7 linked regions of the Homo sapiens genome follow. The protein of the gene in region 4 purifies or fractionates together with the protein of the main gene of each other region. This does not show direct contact. Each region holds a gene or a part of one and is shown on either strand. Other genes may lie near its edges.

Evidence for each region.
Region 1: the proteins of PUS7 (region 4) and OAS1 purify together in Homo sapiens (co-immunoprecipitation; one large-scale study listed by IntAct). This does not show direct contact.
Region 2: the proteins of PUS7 (region 4) and ACOT13 fractionate together in Homo sapiens (co-fractionation; one large-scale study listed by BioGRID). This does not show direct contact.
Region 3: the proteins of PUS7 (region 4) and DOHH fractionate together in Homo sapiens (co-fractionation; one large-scale study listed by BioGRID). This does not show direct contact.
Region 5: the proteins of PUS7 (region 4) and ENOPH1 fractionate together in Homo sapiens (co-fractionation; one large-scale study listed by BioGRID). This does not show direct contact.
Region 6: the proteins of PUS7 (region 4) and IQGAP3 purify together in Homo sapiens (affinity purification with mass spectrometry; one large-scale study listed by BioGRID and IntAct). This does not show direct contact.
Region 7: the proteins of PUS7 (region 4) and NOC3L fractionate together in Homo sapiens (co-fractionation; one large-scale study listed by BioGRID). This does not show direct contact.

What each region holds. Positions count from the first base shown.
Region 1 is NC_000012.12:112,909,962-112,913,461, reverse strand, and holds part of OAS1 (2'-5'-oligoadenylate synthase 1), read right to left. Parts: intron 2,412-3,500; coding exon 2,227-2,411; coding exon of another isoform or gene 2,204-2,226; intron 1-2,203.
Region 2 is NC_000006.12:24,701,577-24,705,076, forward strand, and holds the end of ACOT13 (acyl-coenzyme A thioesterase 13), read left to right. Parts: coding exon 1-39; 3' UTR 40-3,470; downstream 3,471-3,500. UniProt on the Homo sapiens protein: Catalyzes the hydrolysis of acyl-CoAs into free fatty acids and coenzyme A (CoASH), regulating their respective intracellular levels. Has acyl-CoA thioesterase activity towards medium (C12) and long-chain (C18) fatty acyl-CoA substrates.
Region 3 is NC_000019.10:3,494,175-3,497,674, reverse strand, and holds part of DOHH (deoxyhypusine hydroxylase), read left to right. Parts: intron 1-61; exon of another isoform or gene 62-317; intron 318-631; exon of another isoform or gene 632-788; 5' UTR 789-860; coding exon 861-1,134; intron 1,135-1,269; exon of another isoform or gene 1,270-1,444; intron 1,445-1,520; exon of another isoform or gene 1,521-1,560; intron 1,561-3,500. UniProt on the Homo sapiens protein: Catalyzes the hydroxylation of the N(6)-(4-aminobutyl)-L-lysine intermediate produced by deoxyhypusine synthase/DHPS on a critical lysine of the eukaryotic translation initiation factor 5A/eIF-5A.
Region 4 is NC_000007.14:105,456,272-105,459,771, reverse strand, and holds the end of PUS7 (pseudouridylate synthase 7 homolog), read left to right. Parts: intron 1-512; coding exon 513-604; intron 605-1,845; coding exon 1,846-1,982; 3' UTR 1,983-3,269; downstream 3,270-3,500. UniProt on the Homo sapiens protein: Pseudouridylate synthase that catalyzes pseudouridylation of RNAs.
Region 5 is NC_000004.12:82,451,090-82,454,589, forward strand, and holds part of ENOPH1 (enolase-phosphatase E1), read left to right. Parts: coding exon 1-156; intron 157-3,500. UniProt on the Homo sapiens protein: Bifunctional enzyme that catalyzes the enolization of 2,3-diketo-5-methylthiopentyl-1-phosphate (DK-MTP-1-P) into the intermediate 2-hydroxy-3-keto-5-methylthiopentenyl-1-phosphate (HK-MTPenyl-1-P), which is then dephosphorylated to form the acireductone 1,2-dihydroxy-3-keto-5-methylthiopentene (DHK-MTPene).
Region 6 is NC_000001.11:156,538,066-156,541,565, reverse strand, and holds part of IQGAP3 (ras GTPase-activating-like protein IQGAP3), read left to right. Parts: intron 1-649; coding exon 650-858; intron 859-1,575; coding exon 1,576-1,728; intron 1,729-2,028; coding exon 2,029-2,192; intron 2,193-2,532; coding exon 2,533-2,757; intron 2,758-3,500.
Region 7 is NC_000010.11:94,352,940-94,356,439, forward strand, and holds part of NOC3L (nucleolar complex protein 3 homolog), read right to left. Parts: intron 2,155-3,500; coding exon 2,024-2,154; intron 119-2,023; coding exon 1-118. UniProt on the Homo sapiens protein: May be required for adipogenesis.

The sequences.
Region 1 (3,500 bases), on a different chromosome or scaffold from region 4:
GTGAGGAGAGAATGAAGGAGAATCAATATTTTAGAAGAATGGCTGAGAAGTTTCAAAACTGATTAAAGATATCTACCCACAGATTCAGGAATCTTAACGGAATCCCAATCAGGACAAACAATAGGAACCCATCATTAAGACACAGCAGATTGAAGCTAAACAAAATCAAAGACAAAGAGAAAACTTTTACATGCAGCCAGAAGAATAAGACAGGTTACTTATAAAAGAGCTGCAGTTAGACTGGCAACTGACTTTTTAATGATGACACTGGAAGATGGAATGATATATTCAATATACTGAAATGACCACCCAGCAAAAGCACCCTTCAACAATGAAGGCAAAAGCATGACATTTTCAGACAAACAATAACTGAGAGAGTTTACTACCAATAGACCATCATCAAAAGAAATCCCAAAGGATGCATGATCATTTAGGAAAATTACCCCAGATGGAATGTTAGAGGTGTAAGACAGAATGAATAGTGAAGAAAGTGGTAAATCTGTGAGCAGATTAACTAAACATTTGGCTATAAAACAATAATACTTCGAGGCACTTGAAAATATAAACAGACTTGAAATATACAAGAAATGTAGCATATAAGTTGGAGGTGGTGATGATGGTGGTTAGTGGAGTTAAATTATTGTTAATCTTGTCTTGTTTTAAAGGAGAACAGCATCAAGAAAGAAAGAAAAAGACAATTCTTGGCTGTGCAGGACTCTCTTGATCATTGTACAATAACTAGCATTCTTGTCTTCTTTCCACTAAATATAAGTAGCACCCATGTCCTCCCATCACCATGGTTACCAAAAACACCCTCATTAATTTTCAATATGTCCCTGGGGGCAGTGCTGCTTTTGTCAGGAACTGCTTTTGTAAATTCTACAATGCTCAGGCTCCATGATTACAATTCATAGAACAGCAAACACTTAGAAGTCTGGCAACTAAATGATTGTCTTTTTTTTACCTAGAGGTGTTACTTTTAAATTGGAAAGTTTATTCCTGATTATTTTCATTCATTCGTTCATTCAAGAAATATACATTGAATGCCTATTATTATCAGGCAAACTCTTAAGTCAATAGACCCAAATTCGAGTTTTTGTTTGTTTGTTTGTTTGTTTGTTTGAGAGAAGATCTTGCTCTGTCTCACAGGCTGGAGGGCAGTAGTGCAATCCTGACTTACTGCAACCTCCTCCTCCCAGGCTCAAGCGATCCTCCCACCTCAGCCTACCCAGTAGCTGGGGCTACAGGTGCTCACCATCACACCTGGCTAAATTTTTAGTTTATTTTGTAGAGACGAGGTTTTGCCATGTTGCTCAGGCTAGTCTTGAACTCCTGGGCTCAAGCAATCTACCTGCCTTGGCTTCCCAAAGTGCTGGGATTACTGGTGTGAGCTACCGCGCCCAGCCAAATTCAAATTTTACTTCTGCTACTTATTGGCCGAATGAGCCATGTGACCCAGGAGTTTCTCTTTTTGACCCAAGTTTCTCTTGGTGTAAAATGGATTTAATAATAATGCCTAACCTTATCTAACTTACAGAATCACTGTTAAAATTGACTAAGATGCAGGGCATTTAAAAGTGAACAGAAAATTGTATCACATCCACAAAACATAGATAAGCTAAGCACATACTACATGTTAGCTTTTATTATGTGTACTCCTATGGTGGCTAAAATATGCTACATTTATCAGGACCAACTATATGCCGTGTTACTCTAGCTATGGCATGCTACTCGTTGCAGATAAGAAAGCAGAAAGAACAGAAAGGTTAAGTTGCTTACTTAAGGCCAGCCAGCCAGTAAGTGGGAGGAAAGGGCATCTGAACATATATTTGTTTGAAACTCTTGTTTTAACTTATCCACCTTCTGAAGAGTGTGGTTGACTCTCTCTCTGTGTGTGTGTGCGTGCGTGTGTGTATGTAGCATTGATTCATTTATTCAACAGTTATTTACACCTATTATGCACCAGGCTCTGTTTTAAGTTCTGGGGATACAGCAGTGAACAGAACACCAAAATCCCTTCCTTTCTCTCTTCCTTCCCTTTCATTCTCCCTTCTGTTGCAGGCTCCTCTCTCCACCTCTTTTTCCTTTCTCTCCTTTTTCCATCCCTCTATTTCCCTCCACCACTCCCCCTCCTCTTCCCTTCACTCCCTTCTTTCTCTCCTCCCCCCACCCCTCCTCTGCTCCCAGTCGAGACAGGACCCACCAGGCCTGGTGGGAGGGCCATACATTTTGGTACCAGTGCTTGACTAGGCGGATGAGGCTCTTGAGCTTGGTGGGGCGCTGCTTCAGGAAGTCTCTCTGTAGTTCTGTGAAGCAGGTGGAGAACTCGCCCTCTTTCTGCAGGTCGGTGCACTCCTCGATGAGCTTGACATAGATTTGGGGGTTAGGTTTATAGCCGCCAGTCAACTGACCTGTTCGGGCAAAATCTACAACTTAGGTGTCAGCTCTTCTCTGAATTTCCTTCAGTCACTCTGAGGGGACAATCTCCCTGGCCATGGGGTTTGATTGAAAAGTGCAGCAGACCCAGGGCTGGGAAGTCTTGAGGTCCATTCCTGATCCTCCCTCCTGCCCTCTCCACTGCCATCACCCCATCCAAGCCACCACCGTCACTCGCCGGAACTATGGCAGCAACCTCTTTACAGGTTCCCCCACAGCCTGTTCTCAACCTGGCACCTAGAGAATGCTGCTGATCATGCTGCTTCCTGCATCCCATAACATCTGGAATTTTAAAACCCAAAGATCTTATGGTGGCCAATGATGTCTGGTGTGATCTGGTCTCTGGAACCTCTCCCACCTCACCTCCTGTCTTGCTTCCTTTGCCCACTTTCTACTTCTCTGACTTTTTCTCTCTTCCTCAAATGTGCCATGGTCATTGCTGCTTCAGGGCCTCTGCACTTGCCATTCCTCTTCCCAGAACCTCCAGATCTCCCCAAGGCTCACTCCTTCTCGCCACTCAGGCTCAGGGACCCTCCCTCACGACCCTGTCTAAAAAAGCTCCCTAACCCCCATGGCTATCTATTGTTTCACCCTACTTAGTTTTCTTTTCTTTTCTTTTTTAATCACTCCTTATATTCTTTTCTTTTTTCTTTTTTTCGAGATGGAGTCTCACTCTGTTGCCCAGGCTGGAGTGCAATGGCATGATCTTGGCTCATTGCAACCTCCATCTCCTGGGTTCAAGCAATTCTCCTGCCTCAGCCTCCCGAGTAGCTGTGATTACAGGCACACACCACCACGCCCAGCTAATTTTTGTATTTTTAGTAGATGTGAGATTTCACCATGTTGGCCAGGCTGGTCTTGAATTCCTGACTTCAAGTGATCCCCCCACTTTGGCCTCCCAAAGTGCTGAGATTACAGGCGTGAGCCACTGTGACCAGCCTTCTCCCTCTTGTCTTTTACAACCATTGTACTTCAGCCCCCAACACAGGAGATGGCACAAAGGAGAGAATCCAAAACTTTCTCATACCCTGGTGTCTTTGGAGAGTCAGCATTTTTTTTTTCAT
Region 2 (3,500 bases), on a different chromosome or scaffold from region 4:
ATAGCACAAGGAAGACACACAAAACACCTGGGAAACTGAGAGAACAGCAGAATGACCTAAAGAAACCCAACAATGAATATCAAGTATAGATTTGACTCAAACAATTGTAATTTTTGAAATAAACTAGCAAAACCAGAAGCAGCTAGAAATATTCTTGGAGGAAAAGGACCTGGATATCAAGTAGGGTAAAGGTGGGGGTGTCTTTTTTCACTTTAAGCATCTTGTTTTCTAATCATGTGTGATAATTGGGTGAAAAATTCTTAGCTCAAAGTGTTTTAAAAACAGGTAAAGCAAAGAAACTAGCAGGACCACTCTCAGTTAAGATTAAAACTAAAGTCCAGTGTTAAGCTAAAGGAGAAATAGAAATTAATGGTTCTAATTCTGTTTGGGCTGCTAGGAACAACAGAAATTTTTCATGGTTCTAGAAGCTGGAAAGTCCTGGGTCAAGGCCCAGCAGATCCTGTTAGGTGAGGGCCCGCTTCCTGGCTCATAGATGGTGCCTTCTCACTGTGTGGTGGAAGGGGCAAGTGAGCCCTCTGGGTTCTCGTTTTTGAAATGGAGTCTCGCTCTGTTGCCCAGGCTGGAGTACAGCAGCACGATCTCGGCTCACTGCAATCTCTGCCCCCTGGGTTCAAGTGATTCTCCTGCCTCAGCCTCCCAAGTAGCTGGGACTATAGGCATGTGCCATCACACCTAGCTAATTTTTGTAGTTTTTTGTAGAAACAGGGTTCACCATGTTGGCCAGGCTGGTCTCGAACTCGTGACCTCAGGTGATCCGCCTGCCTTGGCCCCCCAAAGTGCTGGGATTACAGGTGTGAGCCAATGTGCCCAGCCTGGGTTCTCTTTTGTAAGGGCACTTACTCCAATCTTGAGGGTTCTGCCCTCGTGATCTAATAACTTCCCAAAGACCCCCACCTGCTAATATCACCTTGGGGGTTGGGATTTTAACATACAAATTTAGGGGAAACACATGGAGACCACAGCAATGGCCAATCCTTAGCGAATCTTAGGTCCTTCCCAGATCTAAAATGCCAAGCTACACTTGCATTTCCTTTTTTTAAGATTATGAAACTTCAAAATATATGAACTACAGCCCATATTGAAAAATAAAATAGATTGAGCCATATGCCTAAAAAAGACCTCAAGAAAAGTTTGAGGCTAAGCATGTTAGTGTTACAGGAAATGGTCCAATAGAGGGGGAAGAAAAAAAGCATGCTACTAGCCCCTTTTCTTGTACCGAGAATAAAACCATGCAGATCTCAAACCTCCAAGTCTATAGTATTGAAAAGACCAAGTTCACTTCTCAGAAGTCTCCAAGTTCAGTTGACTGTGGCACTCTGAGACAGCTTCTGTCACTCAGGCTGGAGTGATACAATCACAGCTTCCCATAGCCTCAAAATCCCAGGCTCAAGACATTCTTCCACCTCAGTCTCCTGAGTAGCTGGAACTACAGGCGTGTGCCACCACGCCTAATTTTATTTTTGTAGAAACAAGGTCTCACTGTTGCCCAGCCTCGTCTCAAACTCCTAGGCTCAAGCAATCCTCCTGCCTTGGCCCCCCAAGTACTGGACTTACAGGTGTGAACCACTGCACCCAGCTGACTCTTACTTGATTTCTGTCAGGGAATCTTAATGAACATTTCATGACTAAAGACTAAAAAGGATGCAGCTTTAAGTAAATTTAAGTCAAGTTAACAGTTAAAGACAAATCCTTTCCCTACATTAGATCGCCTGCTGATCTGTCCACTGTGAAAGGGCAGAAGACTCCACAGTAGCAATAGCAGCAGTGAGCATACAGGAGTCCCAGATGTTTACTTCTAGTATTTCCCACTAAAAGGAAGCTGGGCTCCTTGGAGAAACAGCTGACTCCAGGGCTTGAGGCTGGGACAGAAAGGTTACAGTATCTTATGCATGAAAGGAGATGCTCAAAATAATAAAGGCATGCAAATTATGATTTGGAGGGAAAAAATATGAGGCCATAGTGTTTAGGTAGATAATAAATGGCAGAGATAGAACACTCTCTTACAACAAATGCTGTAAATGGACAAAGCATTAGATTTGGAAAATCACTATTTTGTAACCATCATAGTTAAAGACTGGTTTGGGTTTTAGTCTGGAAAGAATCGCCAAGGGAGCTCCTGATAAAGGAACAGGGTATTTGCACATTGCTTCCCAGAGATTGCTAGTAGTAAGTACCACACATAGGGCAAAACCAGGACACCTTGACCAGGCGCTCAAAAGTAACATCAATGAAGAGCAGATGGAGAGTATACTTGAGAAGGGCGTTAAGCATGAATAAACAATTCAAATGCAAAATGAGTAACAATTTACAAGAAAAATTGCCCTGTACTCCAAAAAACATAGAGGTCATGGAACACATAAAGGCTAAGGAACTGTTCCACATTAAAGACAACTGAGAACAACTAAATTCAATGATCCTGTACTCTAGAGGGGGGGATCTAAAACAAGCTACCAAGGATACTGGGACAACAAAACGAATATGGATGATAAAGAGTATCAACATTCCCTGAGTTTGGTAATTTTACTCTAGTTATATGAAATATTCTTGTACTTGGAACATATGCCGAAGTACTAAGGAAGGGGTAAGGAAGCACAAAGTGTGCAACAAACTCAAATAGCTCACAGGTATAAGTGTACAGAGAAAATGAAAAAAATGTGGCAAAATAATAAAAATGAGGGTAAAGATTACACAACAGCTTTCATATTACTCTGGTAACTTTTCTAAATTATTCCAAAATAAAAACGTAAACAATGGCTGCCAAAATGCCTAACTTGGTGAACATAAGTGTAATTCAATATGGTAAATTAATTCAACATGGTAAATTAAGAGCATAGGCCTTAAGAGCCAGCCAGCCTGGTTTTAAATCCTCCACTACTTATGATCTGAGCTTGAGCAAGTTACTTAACCTCTGCATCTATTTCCACCAAAGGTTGAGAGGTTAAGACAAGAGCTTAGAAGAGTACCTGGTTATAATAAACATTCAAAATGTTATTTCAAATAGATTCTAATTTTTAAATAAGAGGACACATGAAAGCATTTTGAAATTTAAGAATGGCCCTTTCCCATGAAGCAAGGCATAAGGCCAGGTTGCTAACTGTTGAAAGCTGACAGTATGTTCTTGATTCCTGTTCTTGTTGAAGTTACACACTCAATTGCCAGGTATTTTTCTTCTGAATTTACTATTTAGCCACAGACTATGAAATAATTCTCTAAGGTGACCAGTAACATCAGTGAAATGGAAAGAAAAAGTTAACACTTCAAACTTTGTGTATTCACCTGAATAGTCAGGGAACTTTCACCTATTTTATTTAGGTTTTCTTTTTCTTTTTTTCTTTTTTTTTCAAATTCCAACCAGAAGCTAAATACAATTGGAAACTGGTAAGCACTAGTTTTACTCCAAAGGAGTAGGATCATTCAGATTTACTCCAATAAAAGTATGCAACCCTTAAGCAAAGCTTTTCTTCATTTAAAAGGAGAAA
Region 3 (3,500 bases), on a different chromosome or scaffold from region 4:
CCAGCCTGGCGACAGAACAAGATCCTGTCTCAAAAACAAACAAAAAAACATACTTGGTTACCTTCAACAACAGTAAACAGTGTCGCACACAGTTGCTCTGGGCCTGGCTTAGCTGGCTGGCTCTGGGTCTGGCCTCTGGTAAGGCCTCAGTGGAGACGCTCTGGGGCTGCATCATCTGAAGGTTCGCTTGGGGCTGGACGAGCTGCTGCCAGCCCACTTCTCTCACATGGCTGTTGGTGGGAGGGCTCAGTTTTTTGCCACGTGGGCCCCTACAAAAGACTGCTTGAGCATCCTCACAACATGGTCACTGGCTTCCCCTAGAGAGAGAACAAGGATGAGACTGTTGTGCTTTTTATGCCCTAACCTTGGAAGTCTTGCTCTGTTCCATCTTCTTGGCATTCACATGGGTCAGCCCTGTTCAGAGTGGGAGAGGACTATATAAAGCCTTGAATATTGGGTGGGGATCGCTATATAAAGCCTTGAATATTGGGTGGGGATCGCTAGGGCCATTTTGGGGGTCAGCTGTCCCTCTGGCTGCTGTGTGGAGAGCAGACAGTGGAGGTCATTTCTGATAGGCCTATAGGCGAGAGGCAGTGCAGAGACTGAGGCCCAGAGAGGGAAAGCAACTTACGGAAGGCTGCACAGCTAGTAGGGAGGTTGGAGCTGAGCTTTCAGCGTAGATGCTCAGGTTGGTCAGTGGGTAGGAATTTGCCCCACCCAGGTCCTAGGAACAGACAACGCACTGGTGAAGGGGGCTTCTAACCTGGGCTCTCATTTTTCTGCCACAGGTTCTTACATCCCCGCGTCCCCAGGTTTAGCCTGAGCAGGGTTGTGGAAGGCCGGGACCCATTGACAGCACGATGGTGACGGAGCAGGAGGTGGATGCCATCGGGCAGACGCTGGTGGACCCCAAGCAGCCCCTGCAGGCCCGCTTCCGGGCGCTGTTCACGCTGCGTGGGCTCGGCGGCCCAGGCGCCATTGCATGGATCAGCCAGGCCTTCGATGACGATTCCGCCCTGCTCAAGCACGAGCTGGCCTACTGCCTGGGCCAGATGCAGGATGCCCGCGCCATCCCCATGCTGGTGGACGTGCTGCAAGACACCCGTCAGGAGCCCATGGTGCGCCATGAGGCAGGTGAGCACCTGTCTGTGTCCCGGGCACCTGCTCCCTCCTGCCTCACTTCTTCATGACCCCACGTGTCCCCTTCCTCACTCAGGTGATAAATATCAGAGTGGTCAACTGCCCCATAGAGCACCAGATAGTAAATACCTGCAGCTCTGCAGCCAGACAGCGACTCAATAAAGCCAGCGCAGGTCATCTGTCACCAAATGGCTAAGGCTGTGTGCCCAGACAACCTCAACTGGGCAGGGGGCGGTGGCTCAGGCCTGTAATCTTAGCACTTTGGGAGGCCCAGGAAGGTGGATCGTTTGAACTCAGGAGTTCAAGACCATCCTGGGCAACATGGCAAAACCCTGTCTCTAGAAAAAATACAAAAATTAGCCAGGCATGGTGGCATGCACCTGTAGTCGCAGCCACTTGGGAGGCTGAGGCGGGAGAATCGCTGGAGCCCGGGAAGTCAAGGTTGCAGTGAGCCATGATCGTGCCACCGCACTCCAGCCTGGGCAACAGAGTGAGATCCTGTCTGTGAAAAAACAAAAAACAAACTTCATTTGTAAATGCTGAGATTTGAATTTCATATAAATTCCACCCATCAGGAAGTACTATCCCTTTGATTTTTTGTTTTAAACCATTTATTTGTTTGTTTTGAGTCAGAGTCTCACTCTGTCGCCCAGGCTGGGGTACTGTGGTGCCGTCTTGGCTCACTGCAACCTCTGCCTCCCGGGTTCAAGTGATTCTCCTGCCTTAGCCTCCCAAGTAGATAGCGTTACAGGTGTGTGCCACCACGCCTGGGTAATTTTTGTATTTTTAGTAGAGATGGGTTTTGCCATGTTGGCCAGGCTGGCCTTGAACTCCTGGCCTCAAGTGATCCACCTGCCTCGGCCTCCCAAAGTGCTGGGATTACAGGCATGAGCCATCGCACCCCGCCTTAAACCCTTAAAAGTGTTTTAAAAACCATTCTTTGCTCGTATAAAAACAAGCGACAAGCCATAGATCCCCAATCCCTAATGTATATTAGATTTACTCCACTCATTGGACACACATTTAGTGAGCACCTACTGTATGCCAGGCTCTGTCATGTAGTAAGAGACAAAACAGTGACAATACAGATACAAGCCGGGCATCGTGGCTCACGCGTGTGGTCCCAACTACTCAGGAGGCTGAGGCAGGAGGATTACTTGAGCCAGGGAGGTTGAGGCTGCAGTTAGCCATGATCATGCCACTGCACTCCAGCTTGGGCAACAGAGTGAGACCCTGTCTCAAAAAAATGGACTGTTCAGGTCGGGTGCATTGGCTCACGCCTGTAATCCCAGCACTTTGGGAGGCTGAGGCGGGTGGATCACCTGAGGTCAGGAGTTCAAGACTAGCCTGGCCAACATGGTGAAACCCCGTCTCAACTAAAAATACAAAAAAAAGTAGCTGGGCGTGGTGGCCGGCGCCTGTAATCCCAGCTACTTTGGGAGGCTGAGGCAGGAGAATCACTTGAACCCAGGAGGCGGAGTTTTCAGTGAGTGGAGATCGCGCCATTGTACTCTAGCCTGGGTCACAAGAGCGAAGCTCTAAAAAAAAAAAAAAAATGGACTGTTGTAGCGAGGGACCTAGACAGCGAAGGAGACCAGTGAGGCAGGTAGTTGGTGCGTCTGTGCCACTGGGACTGTGTTTCTGTAACCAGTGAGCTCATTTGCAATTAGCGCGTGGGAGGTGCCTGACACAGAGCCTGTGTTGGCGCATACGGGACTTTTCCCGGCAGAGGGAGCCTGCCAGGCAGGTGCACAAACGCAAACCGCAACCTTCAGGAAAGGCAAAAGCCACCAGCTCAGCTGCCTCACAGGCAGGGCCCTTGAGCTCGATTCTGAGAAAATTCAAGGAACATCTGCACCCAGGGCTCTACGGGGAGCCGCCGCCAGCCTTGCTCCGACCTGGGCTTGCGACGCCTGCACTTGCGCCTGTACCCGAACCCACCTAAGTGTAGCCCCAGTGGCCCCAAATTCTGGAGTCTCCAGCCGGCAGGCCCGGCCTGTTTTGGGAATTTTTTTTGTTTGTTTTTTTGAGACAGGGTCTCACTCTGTCGCCCATGCTGGAGTACAGTGGTGTGATCATAGCTCACTGCACCCCCGACCTCCTGGGTTCTTGGAGCTGCTTGTCAGCTGTGATCCCGAGTTGTAGGGATATACTTGTCTCCCTGTCTCATGGTACGGGCCGGGATGGGGTCCATTTTGCTCTGAGCGGCAGCCAGGTGCGGTTCCAGGCAGTGCCTTGCTCTGGGGAGGGGATGCTGATTGGTCCAGCGGGGAGCCTGTACCGACTGCTGCTCCAATCAGCCGTGGACAGAGGCGGGGCTTCCCCACAGTGGCAGAGCCCTGGGAGGGGTGTCCTCCGGT
Region 4 (3,500 bases):
TAACTAATAGAATATAATTGGATTGAGCCTATTATATTCAGGCACAGTGGCTCACGTTATAATCCCAGCAGTTGGGGAGACTGTGGCGGGTGGATCACCTGAGGTCAGGAGTTTGAGACCTCCCTGGCCAACATAGTGAAACCCCATCTCTACTAAAAATACAAAAATTAGCCAGGCATGGTGGCAGACACCTATAGTCCCAGCTACTTGTGAGACTGAGGCAGGAGAATTGATTGAACCCAGGAGGCAGAGGTTGCAGTGAGCCAAGATCACACCACTGCACTCCAGCCTAGGTGACAGAGTTGAGACTCCATCTCAAAAAAAAAAAAAAATTATATATATAAGCAAAACTTAGGTATAAAATCTGGCCCTGCTATATTATTCAAGATTCCTAACTATAATTATTTACAGTAAACTTACTTGTTTTTCTTGCTAAATAAATGATGATGAGTGGCTTAGTACCTTTTATGAAAGTTCACATTCACACTTATCTTTATTCATATGTTTTGAAGGGAAGTCGTTGCATATGATGATCCCAAAATTCCACTTTTCAACACAGATGTGGACAACCTAGAAGGGAAGACACCACCAGTTTTTGCTTCTGGTAAGTTTACTCAGTCATCAGCTCTGTGTTGACTTTGAAATGTTTTGTTAAACAAAAACATAATTTTTTTTTGAAAACTGCTCTTACAAGCACTACCACCACCCATGATTTCATTGTTGTGTTTTATGACCTTACTTTCACAATTATGGCTGAAAGTTAGTGATTAAAACCAGTAAATCCTCCTGAAAATAAGTGCATGTTATAGATGGTTGTGATATTAGGTGATGGAGTATTTCTCCCCATCCCCCACAGAGACTTACCAAAGGTGAGTGAAAATTCAGGAAGAGTCTAAAAAATTAAATTGGTTGGGCAGGTGCGGTGGCTCACGCTTGTAATCCCAGCACTTTGGGAGGCCGAGGCGGGCGGATCACGAGGTCAGGAGATCGAGACCACGGTGAAACCCCGTCTCTACTAAAAATACAAAAAATTAGCCGGGTGTGGTGGCGGGTTCCTGTAGTCCCAGCTACTTGGAGAGGCTGAGGCAGGAGAATGGTGTGAACACAGAAGGCGGAGCTTGTAGTGAGCCAAGATCACGCCACTGCACTCCAGCCTGGGTGACAAAACGAGACTCCATCTCAAAAAAAAAAAAAAAAAAATTGGTGGCTGGGCGTGGTGGCTCACACCTGTAATCCCAGCAGTTTGGGAGACCGAGACAAGTGGATCACTTGAGGTCAGGAGTTCCAGACCAGCCTGGCCAACATGACAAAACCCCGTCTCTACTGAAAATACAAAAAAAAAAATTAGGCGGGCGTGGTGGTGGGCACCTGTAATCCCAGCTACTCAGGAGGCTGAGGCAGGAGAATCGCTTCAACCCGGGAGGTGGAGGCTGCAGTGAGCTGAGATTACACCACTGCACTCCAGTCTGGGCAACATAACAAGACTCTGTCTCAAAAAAAAATTAATTAATTAATTAAATTGGCATTCTCATCATCAAATTCTTGTTCTGTTTTTTCCCAGGCCGTAATTTATTATTATTTCTTTAACTTTACATGCGTTTCTCTTTTGTGTTCTTCTGTCATCTGCCTTTTTGTGAAAGTTCCTGGGCAGAATTTCTGTAACCATTCAGCAGGTTCACACTCACAGATCTCTTACTTCCATGGTCTCATTCTCCAAGGCCCCCTAGGAAGTGGAGTCTAAGGAAAGCAGCACAGTTCTTTGTATTTGCTTAGAGATTATGTGACTCTCGCTGGTCTGTCTGCAGCTGCCTTCATTTTCTGACTGTTTTCTTTCTTGCCTTGCAGAAGGCAAATACAGGGCTCTGAAAATGGATTTTTCTCTACCCCCTTCTACTTACGCCACCATGGCCATTCGAGAAGTGCTAAAAATGGATACCAGTATCAAGAACCAGACGCAGCTGAATACAACCTGGCTTCGCTGAGCAGTACCTTGTCCACAGATTAGAAAACGTACACAAGTGTTTGCTTCCTGGCTCCCTGTGCATTTTTGTCTTAGTTCAGACTCATATATGGATTTCAAATCTTTGTAATAAAAATTATTTGTATTTTTAAGTTTTTATTAGCTTAAAGAAATAATTTGCAATATTTGTACATGTACACAAATCCTGAGGTTCTTAATTTTAGCTCAGAATATAAATTAGTCAAAATACACTTCAGGTGCTTAAATCAGAGTAAAATGTCAGCTTTACAATAATAAAAAAAGGACTTTGGTTTAAAGTAGCAGGTTTAGGTTTTGCTACATTCTCAAAAGACAGCAGGAGTATTTGACACATCTGTGATGGAGTATACAACAATGCATTTTAAGAGCAAATGCAACAAAACAAATCTGGACTATGGATAAATAATTTGAGAGCTGCCACCCACAAATATAAATACAGTACTCATGCTGACTGAAATAATAAGACATCTACAAATTTATAAACAAAAAGTGATTGTCATTATCCTGCTTATGTACTAGATTCAGGCAAGCATTATAGACTTTTTGGTTGCGGTGGCTTTTGCATTTATATTATCAATGCCTTGCAGGAACGTTGCATTGATAGGCCCATTTTATTTTTTTATTTTTTTTTTCGAGACAGGATCTCACTCTGTAGCACAGGCTGGATTGCAGTGCAATCCTGCAATTCTCAATCTTGCACTGCAGCCTCGACCTCCCAGGCTCCAGTGACTCTCCCACCTCAGCCTCCTAAGTAGCTGGGAGTACAGGCGCGCACCACCACGCCTAGCTGATTTTTGTATTTTTTTGTAGAGACGGGGGTTTGGCCATGTTGCCGAGGCTAACTCCTGGGATTACAGGCATGAGCTGTGCTGGCCGGGTTTTTTTTTCTTGATGTAAACGTGTACAGCTGTTTTATTAGTTAAGGTCTAATTTTTACTCTAGGTGCCTTTTATGTTCAGAACTCTTTCCACTGGACTGGTATTTGCTCAAAAATAAATAATGGTAGAGAAGAAAACTATAAAAATGGACAAGGCTTTCTTCTATCAGTAGCGTTTACCCTTTGTCACCAGTGGCTTTGGTATTTCCATGTCTGGCATTGCATAAACTTCTCTGGTGTGAAAGGATAAATATGCCTTTCTAAAGTTGTATATCAAAATTGTATCAATTTTTATTTTCTATGATTTCTAGAAACAAATGTAATAAATATTTTTAAAATCTCCTTTCTACTGGTTATGTAAATAAATCAAATAAATATATCAAAATGAGTGCAGATAAGAATCTTGACCTTGACTAAAGGTAAGGAACTAAATGAATGTGGGATCCTCATCAGAAATGGTGGTGACACCAAAATGTGTTGTGATCAGCTGTGAAGTATGAGGATAATCTGAGTCAAATGCTACGAATAATTGACTGTGTTGGACTGGACTCCAGGTTATTGGAATCACTCACTCACCTTCCAATGTGCTTTATGGAGTAGAAAAGAAAGGAATGGAAAAGAGCT
Region 5 (3,500 bases), on a different chromosome or scaffold from region 4:
ATCTGGGAATGGAGTGGATGATCTGCAACAGATGATCCAGGCCGTGGTAGATAATGTGTGCTGGCAGATGTCCCTGGATCGAAAGACCACTGCACTCAAACAGCTGCAGGGCCACATGTGGAGGGCGGCATTCACAGCTGGGCGCATGAAAGCAGAGTATGTGCTTGAGTCAGCCTAAACATTTCACCAGTCCCAAATCCAAATATGTTTTTTCACCAGTCCTCTCTTTCCAGCGTAAGTCACAAGACTGGTAAAACAGATAAAAATCCACACTCTTTTTAGTCTAACAAGTGAGCTTTGTTTCATTTTTTCAAAACTTGGCTAAAATATTTCAGCTGACTAGATTACCCGGACCTGCCAGTCTGGTCTTGTGGGTTGATTGAAGGACTTGTCAAAGTCTCCGTTTAAAATAGCTTCCTAGAAAATGGTGACTTCCTTGAACTAAGTCATATTTGATTCTTAGCACATGAGTGACAGCTCCGTTGGGCTGCTTGCCTGGACTGTTAATTACCTGCTTTTTGCTCTATGAGACATAGGAAATTTTGTGCCCCACCGTGTTGAGGTTACTCAGAGGATGTCCGCACTACCACGTTCTTCTTTGCTCTTTTGAGCAACTTCCACAGATTCTTTGAGTCTTGGTTATGGAGTTCCTAATAGCACTCCTGCCTGAGGAGACTTTTGAGTATTATACTTACTGAGAAATTCTTGATTGATTCAGACAGGGTCCTACTCTGTTGGCTGGAGTGCAGTGGCATGATCATGGCTCACTGCAGCCTTGACCTCCCCTAGTTCAGGTGATCCTCCCACCTCAGCCTACCGAGTAGCTGGGACTAGGCATGTGCCACCATGCCCAGCTAGTTTTTGTATTTTTAGTACAGATGGGGTTCTACCATGTTGCCCAGGCTAGTCTCAAACTTCTGGGCTTGAGCGATCTGCCTGCCTTGGACTCCCAAAATGCTGGGGTTACAGGCGTAAGTCACAATACCTGGCCTATTTTTTTTTTTTTAGAGCTGGGGTCTTGCTCTGTGATCCACACTGGAGTGCAGTGGTGCCATCATAGCTCACTGTAGCCTTCAAGTGAACCTCCCGCCTCAGCCTCCTCATTAGCTGGGACCACAGGCACGCACCACCACACCTGGCTATTCAAAAAACATTTTTGTAGAGGTGTGGTCTTGCTATGTTGTCCATACCATATTGCTGATAAATTCTTTTCGTTTGTTTGTTTCTGTTTTTGCTTTGAGACCGAGTCTTGCTCTTTGCCCAGGCTGGAGTGCAGTGGCGCAATCTCAGCTCACTGCAACTTCTACCTCCTGGGTTCAAGCGATTCTCCTGCCTCAGCCTCTGGAGTAGCCGCCTGCCACTATGCTAATTTTTGTATTTTTAGTAGACATGGGGTTTCACCATATTGGCCAGGCTGGTCTTGAACTCCTGACCTCAAGTGGTCCACCCCATCTCAGCCTCCCAAACTGCTAGGATTACAGGTATGAGCCACCCCTCCCGGCCTATTTTTGTTTTTGGAGATAGTCTCACTCTGTTGTCCAGGATGGAGTGCATTCACACAATCTTAGCTCACTGCAACCTCCGCCCTCTGGGTTCAAGCAATTCTTGTACCTCAGCCTCCCAAACAGCGGGGACTACAGGTGCGTGCCACCACACCTGGCTAATTTTTTGTATTTTAGTAGAGACAGGGTTTTATCATGTTGTCCAGGCTGGTCTTAAGCTCCTGAGCTCAGGGCAGTCCACCTACCTTGGCCTCCCAAAGTGCTAGGATTACAGGCGTGAGCCACTGTGCCAGGCCTGCTGAGAAATTCTTTTTTTTTTTTTTTTTTTGAGACGGAGTCTTGCTCTGTCACCCAGGCTGGAGTGCAGTGGCGTGATCTCAGCTCGCTGCAAGCTCCGCCTCCTGGGTTCACGCCATTCTCCTGCCTCAGCCTCCCGAGTAGCTGGGACTACAGGCGTGTGCCACCACGCCCGGCTAATTTTTTGTATTTTTAGTAGAGACAGTGTTTCACCGTGTTAGCCAGGATGCTCTCGATCTCCTGACCTTGTGATCCGCCCCCCCTTGGCCTCCCAAAGTGCTGGGATTACAGGTGTGAGCCACTGCACCTGGGTGTGAAATTCTTAAGGATTTTAGGCCATTGCCTGCTGTAAACCCTAGGATCCAAGATTGTTTCCAGCTGCATATATTTCTTTTGTGTTTCTGTCAAATGAGATGTTGTTTCTTTATTTATGTACTTTACGAGGAGCTTCTACCTTTTAAAGGATGGACTGGAATTTCAGGATATGCCAGTGATCTGGGAATATCAGCCAGGTTCACTTTGTAAAGCACTCAAAAAAGTGGAGACAGGAGACTGTGCACCCGGTAGTTAGCCCATACTTCTCTTGGTCTTGGTTCCTTAATTATACAACTAACTGCTGAAGACAGGAAAAATCCTGTCTCCATGAGTGCAAACTAGTACTCAGAATAACATACTTACATGTGTACTGGTTTTGAATACGTTGATCTCTTTCCTTCAATTAGTGCAACATGTTAAGCATGTTAATACATATAAAGCGGAAGACTCCACTGACATTTTCCAGGTAATCTTTTAGAGATGACTGGTTCTACAACCCAAGTTCTTTGTGCTTCTCTTTTCACCTTTCTCCTGTGATGTTAATTTCCTCCATGACTATGGAAAACACTAGAATTGGTAAGAGAGACTGAGTGTCAGAAGTCAGAAAAAGACATCTTTTGCTGACTGGTTAATGTGAGTTGGTACAAGTCTCAACTGACTTGTTATGTAATTTTTTCCCCATATAATAAAACATTGTTTTCTTAGTTCTCAAAAAATGCAGGCCGGGTGCAGTGGCTCATGCCTGTAATCCCAGCACTTTGGGAGGCTGAAGTGGGGGGATCACTTGAGTCCAGGAGTTTGAGACCAGCCTGGGTGACATGGCAAAGCACCATCTCTACAAAAAATTAAAAAAAAAAAAAAAAAGCTGGGGGTGGTAGCACATGCTTGTAGTCCCAACTACCTGGGAGGCTGAGGTGGGAGGATCACTCGAGCCCAGGAGGTAGAGGTTGCAGTGAGCTGAGATCATGCCACTGCACTCCAGCCTAGGCAACAGAGCAAGACCCTGTCTCAAAAAAAAGTAATTCCATTTTCTAGCTAATCATAAGTTTATAGCTTTGAGCCTTCAAACTTTGTTTTGATTATTTTGGGTGCAGATCTTTCTAAAAGCATTTCCATGCTTTCTTAAAGCACAGTGGACATAATTTAACCTTTTCTTGTCATGAAGAACATCAAAGATTATATTATATCATTGCTGTTGTTTGCTTTTTTGAGTTCTTCGGGAATTTAAAAAACACTTTCCCATTTCATCCTTTTATCTGTAGTCCCTTTTTACTGTCACTAGTGGCTGTCTGTTCAAAACTATCCTCCTTTCCACATAGATTGTTGCTTCTAATCTGCTGTGAGCCTGGAACTTGGGCAGTATGTTTATTAGAACTGCAGGAGTTT
Region 6 (3,500 bases), on a different chromosome or scaffold from region 4:
TCTGTCTCATAGTAAACATTCTATGTATTAGTTGTTTTGTTGTTATTTCCAATAAATTAGCTCAGAGGCTTCTTTCTTTTTTGCTCAAATGCCAATTCCAAAGGTGATTCAAGGAGAATCACCAGCTAGCTCTGACCTCCCCTAAATTATAAAGCCCACTGTCCATCCCGTCTACCTGTCCTTCCCGGTGTGTACAGACATTCCTGACAGAGGAGCACTGTGGGAGCAAGCAGGGCTGAGTGGTGGCTGGCAGGTAGGAGGAGGAGGAGGAGCAGGTTGGCCCAGCAGAAGTGAGTGGTAGATTGGGGTAGACTAGGGAGGTCTGGGAGGATAATCAGAGGGAGCTGTGGCTCTGGCTTTGGTGTCAGAGGTCCCTGGGATAGACCCAGGCTGGGGTGAATCAGAGGCATGGGAAGAGCAGCTATTATGTCATCTCCAGTTATAAGACAGGAAGCTCAGGGACAGGCCTGGCTAGAAGGCTACCCACTGCCCTCCAAGTGCAAGCAGAACCAGTTAGAAGAGGACTGGGGTTGGGGACCTGCTGATCCCAAGCAGAACGGGGACTGGGGTGGGCTGACTCGGGCAGGGGCTGGTGAGGAGGCCTCTGATGAGGCATGGCTAATCCTGATGCCTCCTCCCTTCCTCCCAGTGCATGCACCCCACCCTCCTCTCAGTGTGGTACGCAGATTTGCCCATCTCTTGAATCAAAGCCAGCAAGACTTCTTGGCTGAGGCAGAGCTGCTGAAGCTCCAGGAAGAGGTAGTTAGGAAGATCCGATCCAATCAGCAGCTGGAGCAGGACCTCAACATCATGGACATCAAGATTGGCCTGCTGGTGAAGAACCGGATCACTCTGCAGGTATGGGGCCCACCAGTCCTCCCCTCCCCGAGATCTGCCTGCCTCTGGAGATGTGATGCTGACCATTCTCTGCTTGCTAATCAATTTTTTTCAAAATGTTGTGGATTTTGTCACCTGACTCAGGTCCTTGTTCCAGTGGCCCTCTGCCATTCTAATAAATCATTTTGGGGGACCCATGACAGAGTAGAAAGAGCATGAAACCTAGAATCAGAATGCCTGGCTCTGCTGATTCCCAGGGATGGGGCTGTGGGTGCTCATTTCACTTCTAAGTCTGTTTTCTCATTAGCAAACTGAGAATAATGAGAATGTCCACCTCTCCAGGCCAAATATAGAGACAGATATGAAAGCTGTTTAAATCATAAATTACCATATAAATATGCAGTGACAGGGTAATAGTGATATAGTGATAGCTCCACCTCAAATGTGTGTAGCAGTCTAATAAGAAGAGATAGCAAAAGCCAAATAGACACAATTCCTCAGCCTGGCAAACCAGTTCTCTTTGGGGACTCACTCCCATGACAGGAGAGGAAACAGATGGAGTCTCAGGGCACTTGGAGGGGCCCTTCCTCACCCTAGAACTGCTTCTGTCCCCCAGCTTATGCCTGTTCCTTGAACAGCAGAAAGCCCTGGCTCTTCAAGGCACTGATTCTAGACCGTATGTTCTGTGCCCTGGGATGGCCTAGGCTAGTTGTATCACCCGCTCCTCCACCCCTGCAGGAAGTGGTCTCCCACTGCAAGAAGCTGACCAAGAGGAATAAGGAACAGCTGTCAGATATGATGGTTCTGGACAAGCAGAAGGGTTTAAAGTCGCTGAGCAAAGAGAAACGGCAGAAACTAGAAGCATACCAACACCTCTTCTACCTGCTCCAGGTTAGCAGAGGACTTTCCAAGGAGAAGTCTCTCCCGTCTCCTGAGGGTCTGAGACTTCAAGGCCTTCTTGTCTGTGCGTTTGGCACCATGCAAGGTGTCCTTTCCCATAATCTTAATTCCTTATCCCCAGGAAAGGAGACTACCTCTTCCCCTGTTTGTCTGGAATGTTACTAGCACCTGGAGAAAGTGTGGTAGTGCTTTCTCCATTCCAGATTTCCATCAGGGGAAAGCCTTTCCTTATCCTATCACTGGTCCTTGAAGTGCATGGTCAGCCATTCCTGTCTCCCCTCTTGCTTGCAGACTCAGCCCATCTACCTGGCCAAGCTGATCTTTCAGATGCCACAGAACAAAACCACCAAGTTCATGGAGGCAGTGATTTTCAGCCTGTACAACTATGCCTCCAGCCGCCGAGAGGCCTATCTCCTGCTCCAGCTGTTCAAGACAGCACTCCAGGAGGAAATCAAGTAGGCTCTCCAGACACAAAGGAATGGGGAGAGAATGGGTTAAGAGATCCCCCTGTTGGCTCCTTCACAAGGTGACAACTTGTTGAGGCCTAAGGGTAGAAATGGAATCAGAAGACCTCTTTTCTCTACCTCCTGTGGAGAAACCGTAAAACATCTGGGACAGCACAGTGGGAGGATATGGGCTGACATGCTAACACAAAGGATGAGAGAGATATCAAGACATTCCTTAAGAGCGGGGACACCAGGGCAGGCTTTGAGAGCCAAAATCTCAAAAAGGAAAAGCAACGGTATGTCCTACACAGAGGCAGAAGACTGGTTTCAATGACCTCTTAAACCACAGGTCAAAGGTGGAGCAGCCCCAGGACGTGGTGACAGGCAACCCAACAGTGGTGAGGCTGGTGGTGAGATTCTACCGTAATGGGCGGGGACAGAGTGCCCTGCAGGAGATTCTGGGCAAGGTTATCCAGGATGTGCTAGAAGACAAAGTGCTCAGCGTCCACACAGACCCTGTCCACCTCTATAAGAACTGGATCAACCAGACTGAGGCCCAGACAGGGCAGCGCAGGTGAGCACATGGGCAGAGGGAGGAGCTCTCTTTGATCAGCTGTGTCTTGATCAGCTGTGTCTTGGACCCTACTGGGGAAGCTTGGGTGTACTTTGAAGGTGGCATATAAATGGGCATGCTGATCTATGCAAATATGACACCAGCTTTGTAGGCATGAATAAGGTAGTCTTTTAGACCCCCTCTGATAATTAACATGAAACTGATGTAAATGACTTCAGACCTGGTGGGCTTAACATAAAATGAGTACAGATGAATATGCAAATGTGCTTAATTGCTATGTCAGTGCTTGCAAATGATGTGTCAAATTTGGTGGTAGTAGGGCCGGACATAGTGGCTCACGCCTGTAATCCCAGCACTTTGGGGGGCTCAAGGTGGGCAGATCACCTGAGGTCAGGAGTTTGAGACCAGCCTGGCCAACATGGTGAAACTCTATCTCTACTAAAAATGTAGGTCAGGCGTGGTGGCTCACGCCTGTAATCCCAGCACTTTGGGAGACCGAGGCAGGCGGATCACGAGGTCAGGAGATCGAGACTATCCTGGCTAACATGGTGAAACCCCATCTCTACTAAAAATACAAAAAATTAGCCGGGCGTGGTGGCAGGCACCTGTAGTCCTAGCTACTCGGGAGGCTGAAGCAGGAGAATGTCATGAATCTGGGAGGCAGAGCTTGCAGTGAGCCGAGATCGTGCCACTGCACTCCAGGCTGGGCGACAGAGCGAGACTCTGTCTCAAAAATAAAAAAT
Region 7 (3,500 bases), on a different chromosome or scaffold from region 4:
AAGGAGTAATATCTTTAAATAACTCCATCAGAGAAACAATTACCAGCTTTCGAACAGTAACAGCCACATCAGGATCTTGTTCCATCAACATAGAACGTAATTCTTTCAATTTTTTAATCTGTTAAAGAAATAGCTTATAAAGCTGGAGAAATCATGACGAAACAATTATGAACAAAAGACAACAGCCCCACATCCGGCAAAACAAGCGGAATTCACACAATGACTCCAAGTCTAGTCATGCCACACCAAACTCCAGACCCTGCTCACTTTACCAAGAGATAAGTCACTAAAGTCATAAAGTAATTGTATTAGTCCGTTCTTGTATTGCTAGAAAGAAATGCCTGAGGCTGGATAATTTATAAAGAAAAGAGGTTTATTTTGGCTTATAGTTCTGCAGGCTGTAGAGGAAGCTCGGTGCCTGCGTCTACTCCTGGTGAGGCCTCAGGAAACTTACGATCAAGGCAGAAGGCAAAGGGGGAGCCAGGGTGTCACAGGAAAGATAGGGGAGGTTCTAAGCTCTTTTAAACAACCAGCTCTCACATGAACTACCAGAGTGAGAAGTCACTTGTTACCACAAGGATGGCACCAAGCCATTCATGAGGGATCCACCCCTATAATCTAAACACCTCCCACCAGGCCCACTTCCAACATCAGAGGTCACATTTCAACATAAGATTTGGAGGGGACACACCTCCAAACTATATCAGTAATCATATTTTTGTCATATAGTTAGAAACATACAGACCTTAAAAAATTAGTTTACATTTATTATTTAGCTATTTTGGGAAATTCTTTTTTGCTGGATTTTCCTAAAGTACGTGTGTCCTATTCTTCTAAAAACGCTTTTCAAAATATACTAAAATGTTATATACATTAACCAAATATATCAGTCATACACATGAATTAATCAGGAATTACATGTAATATAGCCACATTAACTTGAGCTTCAAAGATAATTTCTATGATGGTTTCGACTGCTTTGATGAACTACTATTGTCTGTGAGCACAGGTTCCTGAGTAGAAGATCTGGGTTCCAATCCAGTGGCTGTTAAAATCTGGAACAAATCACTTGGGTTTTTTAAGGCTCAATTTTCCAGCTGTAAAATTAGATCAATCTCTTATGCCTATGGTTTTGTAATGATTGAGAGAATACACATAAGAAATATTCCAAATCTCTCTTCCCTAATTCTGCTCTAGATCTTCCCCTCACTTCATTAGAAAAGGACAAGTACTACTCCAAAGCATTCCCACATGAAATTTGCTTCTATAAATGTAAATAAGCTATTCTATCATTTCATAAACAAATACTTGTTATAATAGTATGCTGGGGACACCAGCATAACAATAATAATAGTATCATTTTATATGACTTCACGTATATTTCATCATATAATCCTCACCACAAAGTTTTGAAAAAGACACTGTCCTTTTTTAGAGATGAAAGAGTCTTGGATAAATAACTTACCCAAAGTCTCACAGATAGTACTTATCAGGGCCAAGATTAAACCTCAGATTTCTCTAGTTCATGTGTTATAACCATCACTAACTCAACGACTATACACATGGCACAATAACACTTTACTTTAACTTTGGCTCTAGTTCACTTAAAATATTTTCAACTTACAAATATTCCTGAACTAATTCCATACACTTCCCCTGTAGCGCGCTTTTTAAAAACTCCACGGGTATGTCAAGCAAATTTGCAAACAGGTTCCTCCTCCCTAATACAATTTTATAAATTTAAACATTTTTAGAGTTATAAGATGTCCAGTATTTTCATATATGAAGATGAGGAGAATAAGATTCAGAGAGTTTAAGTAACTTTTCTAGGATTACAAAAGAAATTAAGTTCAGACATAGCATTAAGCTAAGATTCTGTCTACTCTCTTACTCTAACCCAGCTACTATGTTTAGTTAATGCTTTTCCTTTTAGTGTATGCTTATAGGTAACAAGGGAATCTTAACAATTAGGCATTTACACCATACCTAATACAAAGAGCCTAAAGAAATTAATACTACCTACATTATTTTCTGGATCTGATAATATGGCAGATGCCAAGGCTGCAATATGCATCTTCTTCTCCTGTAATTTCTTCTTTCTCTCAATCAAATGTTCTTCTATGGTCAGCTCTTGAATAGGATCTTCAATGATCTCTAAAACAGATTAGATGTTCCCTTACATATTCCTCTGCTTACAAGTATCCAAGAATCTTAATAAAATATTTTTACAGTAATAATAATAATGACAACAGCTAAGAATTTTGTATTTACTACTACACATCATCTCCTCAACAATACAGGTACTATCATTGGACCCATTTTATAGATAAGAAAACTGAAGCAAAGGAAGAGAAAATAACTTGGCTAAGCTCATAAACCAAAGGAAAATAGGATTCAAGCTCATAAACCAAAGGAAAATAGGATTCAAACTCAGGCAGTCTGATTCTAGAACTTTTTTTTTTTTTTTTTGAGACAGGGTCTCACTTGGTCACCTAGGCTGGAGTACAGTGGCACTATCACAGCTTACTACAGCCTCCACCTCCCAGGTTCAATTGATCCTCCCACCTCAGCCTCCCCAGTAGCTGAGACCATAGGTGAGCCACAATACCCAGCTAATTTTTGTGTTTTTTGTAGAGACGGGGTTTCACCATGTGGCCCAGACTGGTCTCAAACTCCTGGGCTCAAGTGATCCTCCCACCTCAGCATCCCAAAGTGCTGGGATTACAGGCATGAGCCAGTGCAACCAGCCTAGAGCTCATATTCTTAGCTTCTATGATAATAAGCCCAAAATAATTCATATTAATTAACAAATAGGATAATCCTATTTAGTTTTTTTTTAAGTACAGAATATTCTCCTTTGTTTTTAACACTATATATTACTTTATACAAACTAATACTTCATAGTTTTGGGCTACAGAAAAACATGTCCACCTTAGGAAATTCATAGGGAACTAGATTTAATCAACACTAGCATAATCTGTAATGGTTTTATGATGGGTGACTGAAAACAGTTAAACAGTTGACCTGTAATTCATTTTTGCTATTAATGAGGTCTGCTAAGCGAAAGTAAAATTTAACTAGATTGTTCTGTCACAAATTCCAAACTAATATAATTTCAAACAATAAAATGCATTATTTCAGTTCAACTTTGATTAAATGGTCCTAGGTAATAGAAACTGACATTCAATTATATGAAACATATGCAAGTATAATTGTGCTAGAAACAAACCAAAATGACTTCATACTACAGAATCGCTTTTGTAATTTAAAGCTAAAAAGTTAACAGTTATTTGTAAGTAGTCTTTCTCTTACAATTAAAAGGAATTCAGAACAGTAATAATTAACAAGACACACTTCTTGTATGCCTAGATATTACAAATATGATTGTGTAAATTTTTCCATAATCAAAAAAATAAAGAATCTATTAATAATTCCACAAGATGAAGCTTTCAAATGTGGAAAAATGTTCAAAGTGACCTTGAAATGAGCAGTACTCCAAA